3 linked regions of the Homo sapiens genome follow. The protein of the gene in region 3 interacts with the protein of the main gene of each other region in a pairwise test. Each region holds a gene or a part of one and is shown on either strand. Other genes may lie near its edges.

Region 1 (7,036 bases), on a different chromosome or scaffold from region 3:
AACCTCATTTTCTTCATCTTTAAAATGAAAGGTTCAGAGTCAATGAATTCCCAGGGCCCCTTCCCCTAACATGTCACTAGGGGCTCTTACCCAGTGGTTATATAATGGCAAGAAGGTACCACTGCCTGGCTGGGCCGGGGGACAGGAAGATGAGGTGAATGGCAAGCCAGCCACTCACCTGCAAGAAGTCAGTCATGCCTTGGAGAAAGGCAGGGACACCAGGCATCGCCACAGTGATGGTGGGAGAAGCCACACCAGACCCTCCAGCCCCTGGCCCTGCAGGCCCTAGCAGGTTCCCCAGAAGCTGAGAGAACTGAAGATCAGCCATGGAGGGTTGAGGGGTGGGTGGAGGCTGGGCAGGCCCCCCAGGAGCGGGGCCAGCTGTGGTAGCTGTGTTGGTGGTGCCAGCACTGGCAGAAGCAGTGGCAGGGGCTGGCGGTGGAGCCATACCTGGGGTCCCCTGAGCTGTAAGAAACCAAAAAAAGAAAGCTGGGCTGAGCATGGTGGCTCTTGGCTGTAATCCTAGCAACTTTGGGAGGCCAAGGCATGAGAACTGCTTGAGCCCAGGAGTCTAGGCCACATAGCAAGACCCCATCTCTACCAGAAAAAAAAAAAGACAATTACTAGCCAGGAGCTAGTACTGCTAGCTACTCAGGAGGCTGAGGTGGGAGAACTGTTTGAGCCCAGGAGTTCAAGGTTACAGTGAGCTTTAACTCACTGGATTGCACCATTGCACTCCAGTCTGGGTGACAGAGCAAGACTCTGTAACTTAAAAAAAAAAGAAAAAAGCTGGCCGGGCACGATGGCTCAAGCCTGTAATCCCAGCACTTTGGGAGGCCAAGGTGGGTGGATCACAAGGTCAAGAGTTCGAGACCATCCTGGCCAACATGGTGAAACCCCCTTCTCTACTAAAAACATAAAAAATTAGCTGGGCGTGGTGGCGTGCACCTGTAGTCCCAGCTACTCAGGAGGCTGAGGCAGGAGAATCACTTGAACCCGGGAGGCAGAGGTTGCAGTGAGCCAAGATTGTACACTGCACTCCAGCCTAGCAACAGAGTGAGACTCCATCTCAAAAAAAAAAAAAAAAAAAAAAAAAGCTGAAACCTGAAGACACAAGACACTACAGCAGCCCCATTCCAGGAAAGCAGGAACCAAGAAAATATGGAAAGAACTGGAAAGTGCCAGTGAGCAGACTAGGAAAGGAGTTTAAACTCTGAGTGGGGAAGAATGAAAACTCACCCACAAGGACTGGCTGCATAAGAAGCTGCCCCACAAGGCCGCTCACCATCTGGGCCAACGAGGCATTGGTACCCAGACCGGCGCCCTGCTGGATAGAGAGCAAGGGAGAATTTCAGACCTGCCCTTCCATGCACCACCACAGGAGTCTCTCCCTAGACTGTTACGCACTAGAACTCCCCGACCCTTGCTCACCAGTGTCCCAGAGACTGGGGGCCCTCCAGGATGGGAAGGCCGAGCCTGTGGAGGAGTGGGCCGGGCAATCACCACCCGGGTTGGAGCTGTTGGGAAGCCTGGCACCTGCTGTCCTGTGGGTGGCAGAAGAGACAGACCGAAGAGGGCTGAGGGCCAGGCCCTTGCCAGCCAGCTGCCACCATGGACTGTGCCCTACCTCCCAAGCCTCCCCTTCCAGGTCATTACCTGCGGCCGCGGAGGCAACAGCTGCCACCATGGCCTGATGAGTGATCTGGTGGGCGACGGCGTGCATGAACTCAGGGGGCAGGGAGGGCAGCTGGATGAGGGTGGAGCCTGGGGGGCGGGTCTGATGTAACCTTGAACCTGGACCCCTTCAACCCACCCACTCAGCCCTTCCCTTTCTCTACCCAGAGCTCAGCCTGCCCTGATGCCCTCACTCTTACCCAGGGTTTGGCCATGACCAGGGGGTCCCAGGGGGCCAGTGGGAGCACTCGGAACACCACCAGGCTGTGTGCCAGAATCTGGGCAGGGAGACAGAGACAGTGGCCCTGAGGTAGGTAGGGCCAAGGCCTAACTATATCCTTCTGAGATCAGGCATACTTCAGGCCCATAATCCCCCAATCAGAAAGCCTGCCTTTCCCTCCATCTAAACAGGGAGAGGTACTCCCTTCACCACACAAACACACCTCCAAAGACAAACCAACCCCCACACCCCCCACATCTGTCTACTTAAGCTTCTGCTCTGGTCCCCAGGCTACCACCACCAGCATGTGCCTCTCCCTTCCCCACCCTGTTCCCTCACACCTCAGCATGAACCTCCCTCATCATGCTGATCCTGCTCTTCTCGCCAGCAACTATTCTCACCTTGAATGTTCATGTGCATCATGACCACGGGTTCCACACTCTGGTGGGAAATCCGGATGACCCTCGGGTGGCTGGTGGCTGGCGGGGGAGCTGGACCTGGCGGGGGAGCCCCCTCAGCTGAGGACTCGACATTGGTAGAAGACGGAGCCACGGATGAGGCCTGCCCAGGACCAGGGGGAGGTGCCTCTGCATTGGGAGTTGGGGGGGGCCGAGTCCCATTTCCTGTCATGGTCACAGTGGTTCCCACATTGATCTGAAAAAGACAGATGGACAGGCAGATGTGAGAAAAATACAAGAGCCTAACCAAGAAAACCTCATGATAAACCTCTAAAGTATCTCCAGCCTTCATCACCATGTTTCCAGTCTCCTCCTTTCCTAACCTCCTTCAGGCCCAGTAGCTACCCTGGGTCACTCTATCAACACCCCTCACTCTCCCTCAGGCCAGACTCCCCCTAACCCACCTGTATGGGAATGGCTGCCTGCTGGAGCACCATGGGGGTGGTGTAGTGAGACATAGGCCGGACCACATGCAGGTGTCGTGGGGGCGTGCAGGCCAGATTGCAGCGCAGGTCAGACAGTGCAACAAAGGTGTTGCCCAGCAGTCGCAGGCTCTCCCCTACCAAGTTGATCAACCGCTGATCCTCCTCCCGGCCCTCGTGCTGCGCACAACCAGCCAAACACAAAAAGGCAGAAAATATCAAGCTGGAGTCCATCTCACTAATAAAAGCAATAATGCCTACTGAGAATACCATGTCCTCCAAAACTTTCAGTTATATCCTTGGAAGTTTACATGTAGACCAAATCTTTGCAAATAAATTATATCTTATTCACATAAGGAACATCCTATTAAAACACTACTATGAATCAGTAAGTCATCATATACTGATCTCCTGTACTTTACATTTTCTAAATTCATTCAGGGGCACAAGGGGTACGATACGAGGACAGTGCTTACAGCAAAGATTATCACCTTCTCTGTAAGGGAGGACAAAATCACTTACAGGTTTAGAGAGAAATTGTTTTGTTGCAATGTGTGTTTTTTTGTTTTGTTTTGTTTTTTGAGACAGTCTCGCTCTGTCACCCAGGCTAGAGTGCAGTAGTGCAATCTCGGCTCACTGCAACCCCCTCCTCCCGAGTTCTAGCGATTCTCCTGCCTCAGCCTCCTGAGTAGCTGGGATTACAGGTGTGCACCACTACATCCAGCTAATGTTTATATTTTCAGTAGAGATGGGGTTGCACCATGTTGGCCAGGCTGGTCTCAAACTCCCAATCTCAGATGATCCGCCCACCTTGGCCTCCCAAAGTGCTGGGATTACAGGCGTGAGCCACTGCACCTGGCCCTGTTGCAATGTTTTTCCAGGGAGGGAAAGAGTTATCTGCATTTCAGCCTGTTCTGTTTTGGGAGTACTGGGGCTGAGGAGAAAGGGCAGGGCCATCAAAGGGCTCACATTGTTATTGTAGTCCGTGGTGGCAGCAGCACCCAGAACCTCGTAGTAGCGCTGCAAGAAGGGCTGGAGGCGACTCTCCAGCCGCTGTAGCTCCTGGAGCACCTCGACATACTCCGCAGGGGAAGGATGGCTGTGGACAAACCCAAGGGGCAATGAGCCAAAGCCTTCCTCAGATTCCCACCCTCACAGTCAACAGGGACCACATGTGCCCTCTTTCTCCCTGGTCTCCCAGAGCCCTGGCCCAATCCTTCTCTGGACCAGCAGAGCTTCTATTCTCTTCAACCTCCGCCTCCCAGGTTCAAACGATTCTCCTGCCTCTGCCTCCCAAGTAGCTGGGATTAAGTTGCCTGCCACCACACCCGGCTAATTTTTGTTTTTTTTTTTTTTTTTTTTTTTTTGAGACAGAGTCTCGCTCTATCACCCAGGCTGGAGTGCAGTGGTGCGACCTCAGCTCACTGCAAGCTCCGTCTCCTGGGTTCACACCATTCTCCTGACTCAGCCTCCCGAGTAGCTGGGACTACAGGTGCCCGCCACCATGCCCAGCTAATTTTTTGTATTTTTAGTAGAGACGGGGTTTCATCATGTTAGCCAGGATAGTCTCGATCTCTTGACCTCATGATCCACCCGCCTCGGCCTCCCAAAGTGCTGGGATTACAGGCGTGAGCCACTGTGCCCGGCCTGTATTTTTTAGTAGAGACAGGGTTTCACCATGTTGGCCAGGCTGGTCTCGAACTCCTGACCTCAGGTGATCTGCCCGCCTCTGCCTCCCAAAGTGCTGAGATTACAGGCATGAGCCACTGCACCCAGCCAAAGCTTCTATTCTTTACTCCCACCCATGAGAGGATAGGGAGAAGAAAATGAACTGCTCCCACCCTCCCCACCACAATCCTGCACCTACAATGGTGAAAGACTAATTCTAAGAAAGAGAGCAGGCCTTCGTGAACTCAGAGGAGAATTCCGATCAGGCTCAGGAGATACCATTTGGATTTCCTTGCCGTAGGGAGAGCAGCAGTTCTTCTCAGCTGCCTGTCCTAGCGTCATTTACCTATACCGAGAGAGCCCCTCCTCGCCCCTCAATGCTAACCCTTCAACTAAGACCTCCAAGTAATCCTTTCCCTCCCTTGCCATGGTTCATTTCCTTCTCCCCATACTTCACTTAGGATTCCCCACCCACTAAAGATTCCCTCCATCTCTCACTTGGGTGCATTTGTTTCCGGGGCAGGTGTTGGGCCCGCTGGGGCTGGGCCAGGAGTGAGCTCCGGGTTCTGGGCTGGGGCACGCTCCTCCACTTCTTCTGCCTCCATGGGCTCCCGGGGAGGTGCTTCACTTTCAACTGGTTCTGATGTTTGAGAGCTCAAGGCTACTGGCTCCGGGGTCACAGCCGGTGGCTGCGGGGGCGGCTGACTGTGCTGCGGTTGGGGCCCTCCTCGACACTGAAGGTAGGGGAGAGTCAGGATACCAAAGGCAGGGTAAGACTGCTGCAGAGGATTACTCTACAGGAGACTGAACAGAGAAAGTATCCTAACTAGACTCCCTGAAGGCATGGCTCTGCAATTTTATCTCCGACTCGCTAGCAACTAGCATAAGACTGACACAAATTAGATGCATAATAAGCATCTGTAATTTTTTTTTTTTTTTTTGAGACAGAGTCTCGCTCTGTTGCCCAGGCTGGAGTGCAGTGGCATGATCTCAGCTCACTGTAACCTCCGCCTCCCAGGTTCAAGAAATTCTCTTGCCTCAGCCTTCTAAGTAGCCAGGCCTACAGGCGCGTGCCACCACACCCAACTAATTTTTGTACTTGTAGTAGAGACAGGGTTTCACCATGTTGGCCAGGCTGGATTGGAACTCCTGACCACACGTTATCCCCCTGCCATGGCGACCCAAAGTGCTGGGATTACAGGCAGGAGCCACCACACCCGGCCACAGCATCTGTAATATTTGTAAATAAATTTCTAACAAAGAGTAGAGATTGTGGTTTCCTTTCCTCCACAAGTTGGTTTCCCAGCCTCCACAAGTTAAGAGAGTAGAATCCTTTAATTGAAAAGAGATGCCATGAGACTAAGTCTGAAACAAACTCCCCAGATACCAGGCACCAAGAGGATTGGCAGAAATGAGAGAGCCTCACAAAGATACTTTTTCTGCCCAAAAGAATGAATACTGCAGAGAAGACTAGATTATGAAGGCCAAACCCTGTGGATGTGGCCAGTGAAGCCCTAACTCCCAGGCTGAGAGAAAAGGGAGAGGGAGGGTGGAGAGAGACCCTAGCCAGCCTTGCCCACTTACCTCCATCCGGGATAGTAAGGTCTGTATATCCCTGATCATGTGCTGAGCCATCACCAGCCGTACCCGGGGCTCACTCTACAATGAGAGAAGGTTTATCAGGGTAGGTTACAGATGAAGCCATGAGTTCTACCACCTACTAAATCAGGTCCCAGCCATCTCTCAGCCAGGTCCACCCCACCTCCCAGCCTCCTTCTCCCAGATCCCCTTCCCTGACCCTCGGAGGCCCCTCAATACCTGAATCGGGGCCTGTTCCATGTTGATGTGAACATCCACAGCAGAGCCGTCACTCTGGGGAAAGGGTAAGGGAAGTTGTTCTGGGAGAAGCCAACACTAAGGCCTCCACACCTCCAATTCATTCCCTGGAGCCCTACCTCCTTTTCTCCTTAAAGACTGAGACCAATAGCACACCACAGGGCCCCCTGAACCCAATCTAAAGATGGAAGCATCTATCTTATTAATTCCCTGGTGCTACCACAACCAAAGCTACCCACAAAAGCCCTCCCCTGTGGAACATAAGCTTACAGGAAGATTGAAGGTTCCAACCATGACATAGCTGTTGGCATTCCGGTCATGAACAGAGGCCCCAGGCCCCCGAGTACCAGGGGGGGATCCCCCACCATGAGTGGCTGAGGCAGACCCCGTCCCAGAAGATGCCCCAGAAGGGAGGTGAGTCTGAGGAGGAGCCCGTTCCACCAGGTGGATAACCTTTCCCCCAACATCTGCAGAAAAATAGACACACACCAAAACATAGTATGAACAGGTAAACCCATGGCCTCAGTTCATCCCTCCAGACAGTAGCCCCAACCTCTGAACTGCCTCCCCAGCCCCCTTACTGTATTCCTGAAGCTTCTTATCATCTTGCAGAACTCGTCCCTGGTAAATGAGCCGTTGTTTTTCAGATGGGATGCTGACAGAGGCAGCAATGTGCTCCTTAAACTCTTTTACATTCATCTGAAAAGAAGAGGCATGCACAGGAATGGAAAGAATGGAGGAAAGAGGAAGAACAAAGA
Region 2 (7,036 bases), on a different chromosome or scaffold from region 3:
TCCTCTTTGGCTGCGGGTGGAATTTGGTGAGGGCATGGGCCCCAGAGATGATCAGTAATAAGAAATGAGTTGGTCTTGTCAAAGGCTACATCTTGGCCCCAGTCCCGCCCTCTCATGAACAGATCAGAGTCCACTCTGGGGAAGGGCGCAGCATTTGTCTTTATTTTTCCTCAGCGACTAAAGGCAGCAGCAGTGCCCTGAAGATTAGCAGCAGCAGCAGCAGCAGGTGGCAGGAAGGAGTGGAGGGAAAGGACACCAAGTCTTGGGGAGAGGGAAGGACCCTTCTTCGGCCTTAGAGGGGAGAGGAGAACCCTGAAGTGGGCCCTCCCAGTCCCATCTCTGGGCACAGATCCCACCAGTCTGCTCACCAGTCTGCTCAGTCAAAGCAGAGTGGGTGCACTGGGGTGGACGTGTCAGCCCTGAGCACCCGGCCTCCAGGCTGCAGGAATATGAGCCAGTGTCTTCACTTTGCTCGTGCCTCAGTTTTACAATTGTAAAATAGGGCACTACCTAGAATACTGGGTACATTTTGTGTGTGAGTAAGAAGGGACCGCAAGAGGCCCTTGGCTTAGGGAAAAGCAGCCGGTCACTATGGGGTGGAGAGGGTCAGACGTGTGGCAGTGGCTTACTGGGGTTAAGAAGCAGCAGTCCCAGGGGCTCAGAGGCTGGGGCGGCCTGGTATGACACAGCAAGGAAGAGGCCTTTAGAAATGGGACAAAGTCATGCCCTGCCCCCATGGATACATCCCCTTTCTCTCCTGTTTCAGCATCTTCAAGAGGATGAGTCACTTCCTTAATTCCCACAATCCAGAGGCCAAGTGCAACTGGTCACCCACAACCCCTACTTGTATGCCTAGCGCCATCCCAATTGCCTCCTCCTCCATCTCTACCAGCGTCCCCTCCAGTCTGCACGGGGCAGTCCTCCTGGGCTTGACCTCTCTGTACCCACAGCTGGGGGCCAGGCAGCCCCCCTCTATCCCTCCCAGCACCTCATCCCTCTCCACGTACACAACAGATCCCCCAAGTGCTGAGAATCAAGCTCCCACCTGCCCACAGCGTGCCCACAGATGGCATCCCTGGATGGCAGCTCAGGTGGACTGAGACACTTGAGTCATCGCTCAGGAGGTCCTTCTGGGATCTGGGCAGGTGACTGCCCCAGGTGGCAGGACGTCCCCACCCATCTTAGACTGATCAGGGTCAGTCTAGGAGAACAACCCTCTGAGCTGGGCATGGTGGCTCCAATCTATAATCCCAGCTACACAGGAGGCTGAGGTGGGTAGACTGCTTGAGCCCAGGAGTTCAAGGTCAGCCTAGGCAGCATAGGGATATCCCACCTCATAAAAACCAAAAGACAAAACAAGCCTCTGGCCAGGGCTACCTTGTCTGTGGGGCCTTCCCTTTCCTGTCTGAGTCTCAGTTTTCCTCCAGCAGCCTGAGGAAACTCAAAGGCACAGTTCCCAGATACTCCGAGAGAACCTCCATCTCTGGCAACAGTTTCCATAACAACAGGAATCAGGGATGTGGAGGGCGATGTAGTAGGTGCCCCCCGCCCTCCTCCCCTTCTCTCCTTCCTCCTCATTCTAACGCAAGCTGCTGGCCATGCCCCTCCAGACTGCCCCTTGGGGGTGAGTTTCTTGTTAGTTGGAGTTGCTGGGTGCTGGGTGGGTGCCGTCTGGCAGGCCTGATACTGACGGAGCCTAGGGCAGCAAGCTGACCTAGGGACAGAGGAGGGAGGGGAGCAGCTGGGGTGGTGGGGAGCTCAGGTCTGGGGAAATGTGCCAGCAGAGGCGGAGCAACTATCCTGCTTCTGCTCGGGCCCCTCATGAGACGGGGCAGAGGCCACCAGGTGGGTCCTGCCTCACATCACATCCTTGTGCTCCTGCTTGGACTCCTTAATGACCTGCAGGGGACAGGGAACGTGCACAGTGCAACAGTTAGGAGTTCACACAGACCCCAGGTCCACCACCACGAGGCTGTGTAACCTTGGGAAGTCCCCGACTTCCCAGGTCTTACTTTTCTTGATAGTAACCACAGCTGCCTTGCGTGGTGGACAGAGGGGGTGGTGAGATAACACTGGGAAAGCATTTAGCGTCATGCCTGGCGAGTGGTAAGCTGCTGGAGTAAGATGAGCTCCCACTGTGGTTGGAGTGGCGTGGCGGATACGCCAAATCCCCTCTTCCCATTCCCCTGGTAGTTTCCTTTTACCAAGCTGGAAATGGAAAGCCCTCCCCATCCCCAACTGTGTCTGCTAGAGTTGGAAGTGAAAGCTACTAACTTTAATTCTCTTTCTCTCCCTGGCAAGCAAGGCCCCCGAGTTTGAGGGTGAGAAAGAGAGAGTGTGTATTAGGATCCCATCTAGTGGCTTTGGTACCAAGGCTCCCCTTAGAACAGCCTATGGAGGGACTGAGGAAACGGAATTACATTCAGTTTCCTTGCTCTCCTCCAGAATTCCCTGGGGAGCTACTGGGAGTTGCTGGGAACCTTCTATGTGCCAGCCCCAGGCTTTCCTCCATGGCCTGGCCTTGAGAATCCCTGGGGCCAGCCAGAGCCTGACTGGGCCCAAATCCCTCCTTACCTCTCCATCCCGCATCTCCACGGTCTTCACCACGATGTTCCTCTTGAGGTGGCCTTCTGACACAGACTTGGTGTCCAGGCTGGTTTCTGCAGATGTGGGGAGAGGAGGCCTCTCATGGACTTTCAGGGCATGAGCCATCCTCTCCCATGCCCGGCTTCCCCATCGCACCCCCCTCCCCATCATGAGTATGAGAACCTATGCAACCGAGCAGAGAGAGCCTAGGCTCTTCCAAACGGGCTGGAGAGCCCCCAAATCCCAATAGTGCTGCTGCCAGAGTCCTGGCTGCTCTGTCTTCTGGCCTGGCTTCATTTCAGCCCCTCTGCAAGCCCTGGCCTGGCACCTGGCTTTCTGAAAACCCAGCACGGTATTGAAATCAGGAGACCAGGAGGGGTGCGGTGGCTCACACCTATAATGCCATCATTTTGGGAGGCTGAGGCAGGTGGATCACCTGACGCCAGGAGTTCGAGACCAGCCTGGCCAACATAGTGAAACCTCTACTAAAAATACAAAAAATAGGCCAGGCATGGTGGCTCACACCTGTAATCCCAGCACTTTGGGAGGCCGAGGCAGGTGGATCGCCTGAGGTCAGGAGTTTGAGACCAGCCTGACTAATATGGTGAAACCCTGTCTCTACTAAAAATACAAAAATTAGTCAGGCATGGTGACAGGTGCCTGTAGTCCCAGCTACTCAGGAGGCTGAGAGAGGAGAATCACTTGAACCTGGGAGGCGGAGGTTGCAGTAAGCTGCGATCGTGCCACTGCACTCCAGCCTGAGCAACAGAGTAAGACTCCGTCGAAAGCAGGCAAGCAAGCAAGCAAGCAAGCAGGAAAGAGAAAGGAAGGAAGGAAGGAAGGAAGGAAGAAAGAAAGAAAGAAAGAAAAAGAAAGATTAGCCAGGTGTGGTGGCTCGCACCTGTAATCCCCTTACTCGGGAGTCTGAGGCACGAGAATTGCTTGAACCTGGGAGGTGGAGGTTGCAGTGAGCCAAGATTGCACTACTGCATTCCAGCCTGAGTGACAGAGGGACGCTCTGCCGAAGGAAGGAAGGAAAGAAGGAAGGAAGGAAGAAAAGAAGGAAGGAAGGAAGGAAGGATCAGGAGACCAGAGCTCAAGAAGTCCCAACTTAGCCACCAACCAGCCACATGACTCTGGGCAAGTTAATTGACCTCTCCCAGCCTCAGTTTCCTCATCTGTAAAATAAGGATGATGGGGCCTACTTCTCTAGGTGGGAGAGAGGAGACAATTAACTAAAATAAAGGCTGTTAAACATGTGGCACATATTAGTGCTCAATACACATAGGTCCCTTTCCTGTCCCCTTTCCTCTTTCCTACTTCTCTCTGCCATTTATCTGTGCTTTAGTGACCTGTGACTATCTAGGATTTGGCAGTATTACCTCTACTAGTCAGCCTGGTTAGCCTTTCTGATGCTGAATTAAGTCCTGAGACATGCATATCTAGTGGTCCTAAATATTCTAGTCCAGAAGAAGAGGAATTTTGTTCCTTAGCTAAGAATCATTTCAGGGCCAATGCAAGTAAAAAGTAATTTAGCTCCCCCCTCCCCCCGCCCCGCCCGAGAGAGAAAAATATAACACGTCACATTCACTAATATTTAACATTAAGAGCAGGGAACATAAAACTTTATTCACTGCAAGAGCTGCGGTCCTGAGGGAAGAATCCTCTGAACTGAGTCAGCACTGAGCTGAGCGATGGAGCCTCAGGGATGAAAGAATAAAGCAGAGAGCCTGGCGTCCAGGCACAGCGAGACCCAAGGGGCCCTCCCAGTGACAGGAAGAGGTGAGACAGAGGCTGCTGCTTGCTCAGAGGCCCCAGAGCAGCTCCACTGCGCACCCAAGGACTCACCACCTTTACCACTAACAAGCTCTGCCAGTTTAATGTACAGTTACTCTGTACCACGTCCTGGGCTGGGCACTGCAGTTCCTGGGAAAATGACGCAGTCCAGGCCCTTTAGGGGAAGCCTGGGAAGAGGGAACTCAGGGGGATTGGGAGGATGGGGTGGGTGAGGCTCACTCCCTGTCAAGCTGGGCAAAGCGCCGTGTCTGAGAGGCAGGCAGCTAACCGCGAGCCGGCGGCGTTCCATTTACAATCTGGTGAGCCTGTATTGGTATAACTCGTATTGTGAGGCTTTTGAGATATCTTGTGACCTTGTGATTTTCCCCGTCTTTGGTGCTTTTGCCCCCTGTAGTGACAAGCAGTTAAAAAAACAAAAACAGAAAACACTCAGAAGGGCAGTGCTTGCTCAGGGATCTGCAGACAGGGCAGATGTCAAGCTCTCACCCAGTTCTGCTGTCGAATGGGGTGCAGGGAGGGGAAGAGGGACCAGGGCCTAGCAGGACAGGGGCAGCTGCAAGCCCCACCTAGAAGTACCCTGGTATGATAGGCTCTGGCTAGGAGCGCTGCAGTGTCACGAAGGCCCCCAGGGAGAGCTGGATCCCTTTGCCCTGATCCTCAGTCCCAGTCTGGAGCAACCTACAGGCCCTGGAGGAGGGGGCAGGACTCCAGTGCCCTTCCCACGAGGCCCTGCTGTACTGACCTCGAATCTGCAGGTTGGAGAAGGTCTGCACGGGAATGGTGATCCTGAAAGAAAGCAGAGGGAGAGGGCTGCCCGGGCTGCCTGGGACACCCCTAGGCTGGGTCTTGGTGCGGGGCCATCATGACAACTTGAACGCCCTTTTCCTTGCCAGGAAAGTCTAACTCCATCTCCTAGCTTTTTCCCCAGCAGCCAACGTGCTATCTGGAGTTCCAAACGTCTGCAAGGGGCTTGAGTGTTATCTGGGAGGGGCGCATGTCTATCTGAAGGAAGATGGAAAAGGGAGGGGAAAGTGGTGAAGAAAGTTCCAAGGAGGCAGAAGAGATGGGTGAGGTGAGGAGTCCAATCTTGGCTGGGAAGATGGGGAGTATGCCTCTTAGTTTGGAGGGTGACCCAAGTCCTTGGCCTTGAGGCCTAATCAATATTGGTTGAATCCATCCATCCATTCAGTCATCAAACATCTAGTGACTGCCTGCTATGTGTGAGGCAGGCACTGTGCTGGGCATTGAGGTGGGAAGGGATCTGCACACAAGGCTGAAAAAGACTCAGTCCCTGAAGGGAGCAAGATGAGCTCTACCGTGAGGCAGCAGGGAGACTTCCCCAGGGGCTGTGATGAGGGCTCACCGGTTCTCCTCGCCCTCTAGCAGCTTCCTGTAGGTGGCGATCTCGATGTCCAGGGCCAGCTTGACATTGAGCAGGTCCTGGTACTCCTGCAAGTGGCGGGCCATCTCGTCCTTGAGGCTCTGCCCCTCTTCCTCCAGCCGCGCCAGCGCCTCCTGATAACTGGCCGCCTCCCGCACGTGCCGCTCCTCCTGCTCGCGCATCTGCCTCTCCAGGGACTCGTTCTGTGGGATGGAGCCGGCCGGTCCCGCGGAGCCCCGACCCGACTTGGGGAGGTTTCGAGGCCCGGCCCCCGGCCCCAGGCCCCGCCTCTAGCCCGGGGGTAACGTTCAGGCCCCGCCCTCGACCCAGGTCCTCGTCCCTGGCCCTTCTCCCCTGGCATCTCCTGGGGTGGCCGTCCCTGCTCCGCCCGTCCCCGTCCTGCCCTGGCCGCGCTCACCGTGCCGCGCAGAGACTCCAGGTCGCAGGTCAAGGACTGCAACTGGCGCCGGTAGTCGTTGGCTTCGTGCTTGGCCTGGCGGAGCAGCTCCGCGTTGCGGGCAGCAGCGTCTGTCAGGTCTGCAAACTAGGTGGGGGACACATATGGGGGGCTGTGTGGGCCCATGGGCAGGCACGGGCTCTGGGAAATCAGGGAGGTGAGCAGCACCCCAGTTAACCCCAGGACGTTGGCCCTGGCTGGGACTTTTCCCAACAACTGTGACCCATGGATGCGGGCAGGGTAGCGGGCTGCCAGACCTCAGCACCTAGCACAACACCTGGTCAGCAAGCGAATGAATGAACAGTGCCACAGAATCCAGAACCTTCCACACTGACAGCTGCATCTGCGGGACTGAACGCTGTCGTCTTAGGCGAGCGGAGGCCTGGGTGTTTTGTGTGTTTTTGTTTTTTTGTTTTTTTTGTTTTATTTTGAGACAGAGTCTTGCTCTTGTCGCCCAGGTTGGAAGTCAGTGGCACAATCCCGGGTCACTGCAACCTCTGCCTCCCAGGTTCAAGCAATTCTCCTGCCCCAGCCACCTGAGTAGCTGGGATTACAGGCATGCGCCACTACACCCGGCTGATTTTGTATTTTTAGTAGAGACGGGGTTTCACCATGTTGACCAGGCTAGTCTTGAACTGCTGACCTCAGGTGATCCGCATGCCTCGGCCTCCCAAAGTGCTGGGATTACAGGTGTGAGCCACCTCGCCTGGCCTCACCCTGGGTTCTAATAGCCCTTTCTCCCCTGCCTGCAGGGAGGTCCTCCCAGCCCCATCGGGCCCTCACCCTGCTCAGACACCAGTGGCTTCTGCCACTCA
Region 3 (7,036 bases):
GCAGGCTTTTGTTCCTTACTCTATTGCTATCTTCATTTGTTATTTGATTGTGGGCTTTTTTTTTTTTTTCTAATGGTTTGGTTTGATTTCTCTTTAGCATTTGTGTATTTACAATAGGTTTGCCCTTGTGGTTACAACTGTCTACTTTAATTTGATGTCTACTTTAATTTAATTTGAATTTAATTTAAATTCAATGGCCTACAAAACTCTGCACTTTTACCTACCATTACACTATGTGTTTTTGAAGTCAGAGTTTACTATTTTTCATACAGTGAATCCATTATCAATTTTTTGTCATTATACTTACCCTTAATACCTTTTTGTCTTTTAAGTCCCCTCCCCCACTCTACCTTAGTAACAGGATGCGGCTCTATTTCCCAGGCTGCAGTGCAATGGTGCAATCCTAGCTCACTGCAGCCTCAAACTCCCAGGTTCAAGCGATCCTTCTGCATCAGCCTCCCAGGTAGCTGGGACTACAGGTGCCTACCACCATAACTGATAATTTTTTTGTTGTTCCTTATTTTTGTAGAGATAAAGTCTTGCTATGTCGTCCAGGCTGGTGTGAGACACCTGGCCTCATGTGATCCTCCCACCTCAGCCTCCTAAAGTACTGGGATTACAAGTGTGAGTCACCACACACAGCCTTCTTTAAAGTTTTATATTGGGGTTACCAGTTATTTCTGTACCACCCTTACAGTATTATGTTATTCTATATTTGACTGTACATTTACTCCTGAGCTTTACATACTTTCCTTCATACGCTTTTACATTGGTGTTTATCATTTTTTCTATTCCATTTAAAGAACTCCATTAGCATTTCTTCTCAGGCAAGCCTAGTGATGACAAACTCCCTCAATTTTCATGTGTCTGGGAAAGACTTTATCTCCTTTCCATTTTTAAGGATAGCTTTCCAGGGTATAGTAATCATGGCTGGCAGGGTTTTGTTTTTTTCTTTCAGTACTTTGAATGTAACATCCCATTATCTCCTAGCCTGGAAGATTCATGTTGAGAAATTCACTGATCATTTCTGGGGTGGGGGGTGGTGGGGGGGCAGGTTTCCCTTGTATGAGATGAGTTGCCTTTCTCTTGCAGCTTTCAAAATTCTGTCTCTTGAGTTTTGACAATTTAATTATAATAAGTCTTGATGTAGACTTCTTTAACTGTTGTGGGGTTCTATGAGCTTGAGTCTGGATATCTGTTTTGTTCTCCATATTTAGGAAGTTTTGGGTTATTTCTTTAAAAAAAAAAAGGCTTTCTGCCTGCTTCTCTTCAATCCCTATAATGCATATATTCATTCAATGACAGTGTCCCATAAATCCCAGAGGCTTCCTTCATTTTTTTCATTCTTTTCTCTCCTCTTACTGGGTAATTCCAAATGACCTGTTTTCAAGTTCTCTTGATTCTTTCTTCTGCTTCACTGAGTCTGTTGCTGAAGCTCTCTACTGCATTTTCTAGTTTCTTCAGTGTATTCTTCACCTCTAGAATTTGTTTGGTTCTTTCTCACGGCTTCACTTTCTTGATGTTCTCATTTTGTTTTTATGTTGTTTTCCTGATTTTGTTACATTATTTATCTGTGTTCTCTCACCGTTCACTGACCTTCAACAGTTATTTTGAATATTTTGTCAGGGACTTCATGGATCTTCATTTGTTTGGGTTGCTTGCTGGATATTTATTGTGTTCTCTTGGTGGTATCAAGTTTTCCTGATTTTTCATGTTCTTTGTATCCTTGCATTGCTGTCTATGCACTTAAAGAAGCAGTCACCTTCTCCAGTCTTTATGGACTGGCTTCAGAAAGGATAGTCAATTGCTCAGATGGGAGCAATGACTTGTGGGGAATGCAGGAGCATACTGTTGCACTAAGCCTACTGGCACACAGAGTGCCAAAGTGCGGGGAAGTACAACAACTCTTGGTTTATATGTATGCATTGGCGTGGCAGCTCAGGGAGCTAGAGTTGGCAATATCAGTAACAGGGCAGTCCTCAGCTCCAAAAGCTACAGGGTGTAGGCAGTGGCTGCCAGCAGCACCTCTGTGTTAAGAAGTGAGCATCCCTGGTAGGTGGGAGCCAAGGCAGGTCGTGGCAGAGGCCAGGTGGAGTTTGGTTGCAGGCATACATGTGGCAATGGGGGCCATGGCCAGCTGTGGCCATGTGTGTGCATGGCTATTTGGCCCACTGCATATGGACATGGATTGACAACAACTGTGGGACAGGGCAGTAGCTTGCATTCCTCTAGCTGAAGGAGTTGGCTGCAGATACATAAACAGAAGTAAAAACCAGAGCCAAGAGCAAGGACCAGGGCTGGCCATGGGCAAACACACTACAAACTGATAGTCTTAGGCTCCAAATTGTCCTACCAGGTCATTCTACACTTTAGACAAACCTCCCCAAGGAAACCCTCCAATGAAAACGGCAAAAGTAGAGCTTTAATAATCCACGCAAACCCTGCAAAATATCAATTTACTAGATAATTTGAAAATGACGATTTTTTAATAGTTAACCTTCTTGGATTCAATAGATTAAAATGCTTTTATTTCCTAGCAAATCTAATTATTTTTATGGTTATTTTAGCTTCTCTCAGACCAGAAGTAGAGTTGAAAATAAGCCCAGCAACTTCAGACTATCATAATTTCCTAAAAAATAAAAACTCACCCTTTCTAACAATTTCTGAAGCTTCAATGTTTTCTCTTCGCGTAACTTTTCCCTTAGCTGCTGTGCTTTCATTTGTTTTTCTTCATGTTTCTTCTTAGATTCTGCAATTGTTCTATTAATACAAACAAATGGACAAGAGACATGAAATGTTTACATGATAAGGCCAGAAAAAGTGTTCTTTAGACTTCATAGTTCTTAAAGTATACAAAACTAATTTTGGCCCAACATTTCGGGAAAGCTTTGTTACTTTTCAATGGATCTGAAACTGTCCTGAAGTAATGTGTCCAAAAATGCCACGTAGCAATTTTATTTAACAGTCAAGAGTGGCTAGTTTCCTTGCTGTGAACCATTTCAAATTAATTTTCAAATGCCAGACCTTTTACGAGAGGGTGAAGAAAGTTTTTCATGCATGTGAATTCCATGCCCTGGAGGTCTAGCAGGTTCTTCTTCTACAATGTCCCCCCAGGATGTATTTTGGCGCCAAGACTCACGAGCTGTTCAGAAAAAAATACTATTATTGTTTAGCCACATAGGTCTATAAAACATTTGAGAACAAACTTTTGAACACTGTACTACACACCCAATATGCATATACACAATACCTTCATAATCTGCAAGGACATCGTTCCAGTCCATGGACATACCACAGAAAGAAACACTCCCACTGCCCATGCTGGCCTAAAATGTAATAAGGGAAGTTGAAAATCAAATCTTTGAACACAATTACAACTTTAGAAAATGAACTATACATGAAAATGTCCTACCTATTGTTAATATATTCTATTTAACCAACAGTTGAAAACCAGGAAAAAGGTACCTACCAGTACAATCAAAATAATTGCCAAGTTAAAATACTACAGCCTATTCATTTTAAGAGCCTAGCAGCCATTAACAGCAGAGACAAATGAAGTAAATTTAAGAAATATATTGGCCTTATCCTATTACTACATAAATGCTAACATATAAAAAGCAAATATTGAAGAATTGAAGATTGTTTGGCATTAAAATTTAATAAACCAATATGTAAAACATTTAAAGTTATTTTATTCTTTAACAAATTCCCATCATTAACATATATATCCTAAGCACTTAGTAACAGAAGGTAGTGTATCATTTGCTCATTTATTTATTTATTTATTTATTTATTTATTTTTAAGATGGAGTCTCACTCTGTCGCCCAGGCTGGAGTGCAGTGGCACGATCTCAGCTCACTGCAACCTCCGCCTCCCGGGTTCAAACTATTCTCCTGCCTCAGCCTCCCAAGTAGCTGGGACTACAGGCACCTGCCACCACGCCCAGCTAATTTTTGTATTTTTAGTAGAGATGGGGTTTCATCATATTGGCCAGGCTGGTCTCGAACTCCTCACCTTGTGATCCACCTGATTCGGCCTCCCAAAGTGCTAGGATTACAGGCATGAGCCACCACACCCAGCCTACTTTTTGTTAATAGAATACAAAAGTAAAATACCTTAGCTTCATCTTCACTTTCTATAAATTATAATCTCAGTAATGTGGAGTTCTTACTTTATGTCAGACTCAATTTTTTAACTTTTTTTTAATAGAGACGGGGTTTTGCTATGTTGCCCAGGCTGGTCTCGAACTCCTATCCTTGACCAATCCTACCGCCTTGGCCTCCCAAAGTGCTGGGATTACAGGCATGTGGCACCACAACCGGCCCAGACTCAATTTCTTGACTGGTAAAATAACAATAACAACTTCTAACTTGTCAACTGTATCATACATGAAAATAGTAATGGTAAAGTGCTAACAAAAGATTTGCTATTGTTTATTGTGTAAGTCTAAATCACCCTGAGAATAATAGTTATGATTACTGAACATGATTTTTAAATAAATAATTCTAAATAGGACTAGATGGACTCCAAGTCTTTCTGGCCCAGATAATTTTGTTTCTAAATATAAATTTTGAATAGTTATGTTAAAAAGTCTAAAAGCTCACAGAAAAATCACTGTCGTTGTCAGTTTCAATGTTAATATCATTGTTTTCTTCAGCTTCAATTTCTCTAGTTAACTGTTCTTCTTCAGCAATAGCACTAGCAATGGCTTCTTCATTGGCCTTTTCTAGACGATCTGCTAGCTCTTCTTTTTTAGCAAGGACTTCTGCCATGGACTATAAAGTTAAAAACACATAAACAAAAAGAAAAATGATCACTTGACTGGAAAGTAATCATTTTTTATGTTCTAACATGAACTCAACAGTATACATAAAATTGTATTGATCTAGAATCATAAAAGCTGGGGTTCCATACAGGCTCATCCACTTACTAGCTGTGTGCCTTAGAAGCTTCTAAAAACCAAGAACCTACTTGGTATTCCATAAAATGGAACAATAATCAATGACTTGCCTTATTTACCAGACAGCTACGTATGAGAAACTGTGAAATTATATAAATAACAGGTAGTGTGAATTTCATTTGAGTGCCAAAATTCAAAACAATTATAGATTGAATATACTCATTAAATATAAAACCGAAATAGTATACTATAATGGGAACATGGAAAGAATATATGCTGTACTGGTGATGATGCTTTCTGAACATACATACACCTAACTTTAAAAAATGCACTGCAAATAATAAAAATATACATGAGATTCATTAATTAATAAATCCTCATGAGAAGCTAAAGATGTATACTAGAAACCCTAAATCAAACACTGAAATAACAAAACAAACATGTGGTTAATAAGCCATCAAAGGTGATAAAATGAAATTATTAAAAAATTAAAAATGGAAGGAAGAACACAAGTCAGAGAAAACAAATAGTAAAATGGTGGATTTAAACAAACTATGTCAATAATTATATTACATGTAAATGTTAACATGTAATAGGCAGAGATTATCAAACTGGATAAAAAATAAGACTGAGCTATATGTTTCCTAGAAGGAAAAAAACAGATTACAAGTAAAAGGTCTATGCTAATTAAAAGAAAGCTGAAGTATTAACATCAGACACAGATTTCAGTGCAAAAAATATCACCAGGAATAAAGAAGACCAATTTATAATAATAAAAGGGTCAATTCATCAAGACGACAAAACAGTCCTAAATGTTTATAGACCTAACAGAACTTCAAAATATATAAGGCAAAAACCTATAGAAATGCAAAAAAATATAAACCTAATGAGAATGTAAAATGATGCAACCACTTTGGAAAGCAGTCTGACAGTTGCTCAAATGGTTAAACATAGAGTTCATATAACCCAACAATTCCACTCCTAGATATATATCCAGGAGAAATAAAAAATGTGCCCACACAAAAACTGTTATGCAAATACTTAAAGCAGTGCTATTCATAATAGCACAGTGGAAACAACCTAAATGTCCATCAACTGATGAATAAATAAAATGTGGTATATTCATTCATTCAGTGGACTATACTATTTGATCACAAAAAAGAACAAAGTACTGAGACAAACTAAGACATGAATGAACCTCTAAAATATGCTAAGAAGTCAGTCACAAATGACCACATATTGCATTTCATTTCTATGAAATGTCTAAAATAGGCAAAATTATATAGAGAGAAAGCAGTGCAGTGGCAGGTGTGGGAGGAGTGAAAGGGAGTAACTGCTAATGGGCACTGGGTTTTCTTTTTAGAGTGATGAAAGAGTGCTAAAGCTGATTATGGAGAATATACTAAAAAACAACAGTAAACTTCAAACAGATGGATTGTATTATACGTAAATTATGATCTCAATACAGTCGTTAGAAAAGAAATAGATCCACAGTTACAGTCAGTGATTTCAGTACCCCTCTTTCAACTGACAGAAAAAGTAACCAAAAAACTAGCAAGGATATAGAAGACCTGAACAATACTATCAACAAAATTGATCTAGGTATTTTCTCAAAAAAAAAAAAAAATATATATATACATGTTCACATAAAGTTGTACACAAAAACGTTCGTGGCATCTTTATTCATTAAAGAAAGATGTAATTCAAATGTCTTTGGGCAAGTGAATGAACAAACATTGTGTTACATGGATAAATCTCAAAATAAATATGTTGAGTGAAAGAAGTCAAGCAAAGCTTACACAATTCAATTTATATAAAACTATCATCAGAGTGAACAGGCAACCTACAGAATGGAGAAAATTTTTGCAATCTACCCATCTGACAAAGGGTTAATATCCAGAATCTATAAAGAACTTAAACAAATTTACAAGAAAAAAACAAACAACCTGGCCAGGCGTGGTGGCTCACACCTGTATCCCAGCACTTTGGGAGGCCGAGGCGGGTGGATCACGAGGTCAGGATATCGAGACCAGCCTGGCTAACATGGTGAAACCCCGTTTCTACTAAAAAATACAAAAAATTAGCCAGGCGTGGTGGCAAGCGCCTGTAGTCCCAGCTACTCGGGAGGCTGAGGC

What was found. The genes of interacting proteins can lie anywhere in the genome.
Region 1: the proteins of SCAPER (region 3) and BAG6 interact in binary tests that used the Homo sapiens proteins (3 or more experiments, as listed by UniProt).
Region 2: the proteins of SCAPER (region 3) and GFAP interact in binary tests that used the Homo sapiens proteins (3 or more experiments, as listed by UniProt).

The regions. Positions count from the first base shown.
Region 1 is NC_000006.12:31,642,651-31,649,686, forward strand, and holds part of BAG6 (large proline-rich protein BAG6), read right to left. Parts: intron 6,978-7,036; coding exon 6,860-6,977; intron 6,746-6,859; coding exon 6,549-6,745; intron 6,315-6,548; coding exon 6,261-6,314; intron 6,102-6,260; coding exon 6,027-6,101; intron 5,177-6,026; coding exon 4,941-5,176; intron 3,874-4,940; coding exon 3,744-3,873; intron 2,955-3,743; coding exon 2,757-2,954; intron 2,549-2,756; coding exon 2,296-2,548; intron 1,980-2,295; coding exon of another isoform or gene 1,953-1,979; coding exon 1,875-1,952; intron 1,765-1,874; coding exon 1,657-1,764; intron 1,545-1,656; coding exon 1,432-1,544; intron 1,328-1,431; coding exon 1,240-1,327; intron 466-1,239; coding exon 179-465; intron 1-178. UniProt on the Homo sapiens protein: ATP-independent molecular chaperone preventing the aggregation of misfolded and hydrophobic patches-containing proteins.
Region 2 is NC_000017.11:44,905,490-44,912,525, forward strand, and holds part of GFAP (glial fibrillary acidic protein), read right to left. Parts: intron 6,309-7,036; coding exon 6,183-6,308; intron 5,968-6,182; coding exon 5,747-5,967; intron 5,170-5,746; coding exon 5,126-5,169; coding exon of another isoform or gene 4,980-5,125; exon of another isoform or gene 4,772-4,979; coding exon of another isoform or gene 4,647-4,771; exon of another isoform or gene 4,183-4,646; intron 2,661-4,182; coding exon 2,575-2,660; intron 1,900-2,574; coding exon 1,858-1,899; 3' UTR 1-1,857.
Region 3 is NC_000015.10:76,762,313-76,769,348, forward strand, and holds part of SCAPER (S phase cyclin A-associated protein in the endoplasmic reticulum), read right to left. Parts: intron 4,777-7,036; coding exon 4,606-4,776; intron 3,327-4,605; coding exon 3,251-3,326; intron 3,143-3,250; coding exon 3,025-3,142; intron 2,761-3,024; coding exon 2,649-2,760; intron 1-2,648. UniProt on the Homo sapiens protein: CCNA2/CDK2 regulatory protein that transiently maintains CCNA2 in the cytoplasm.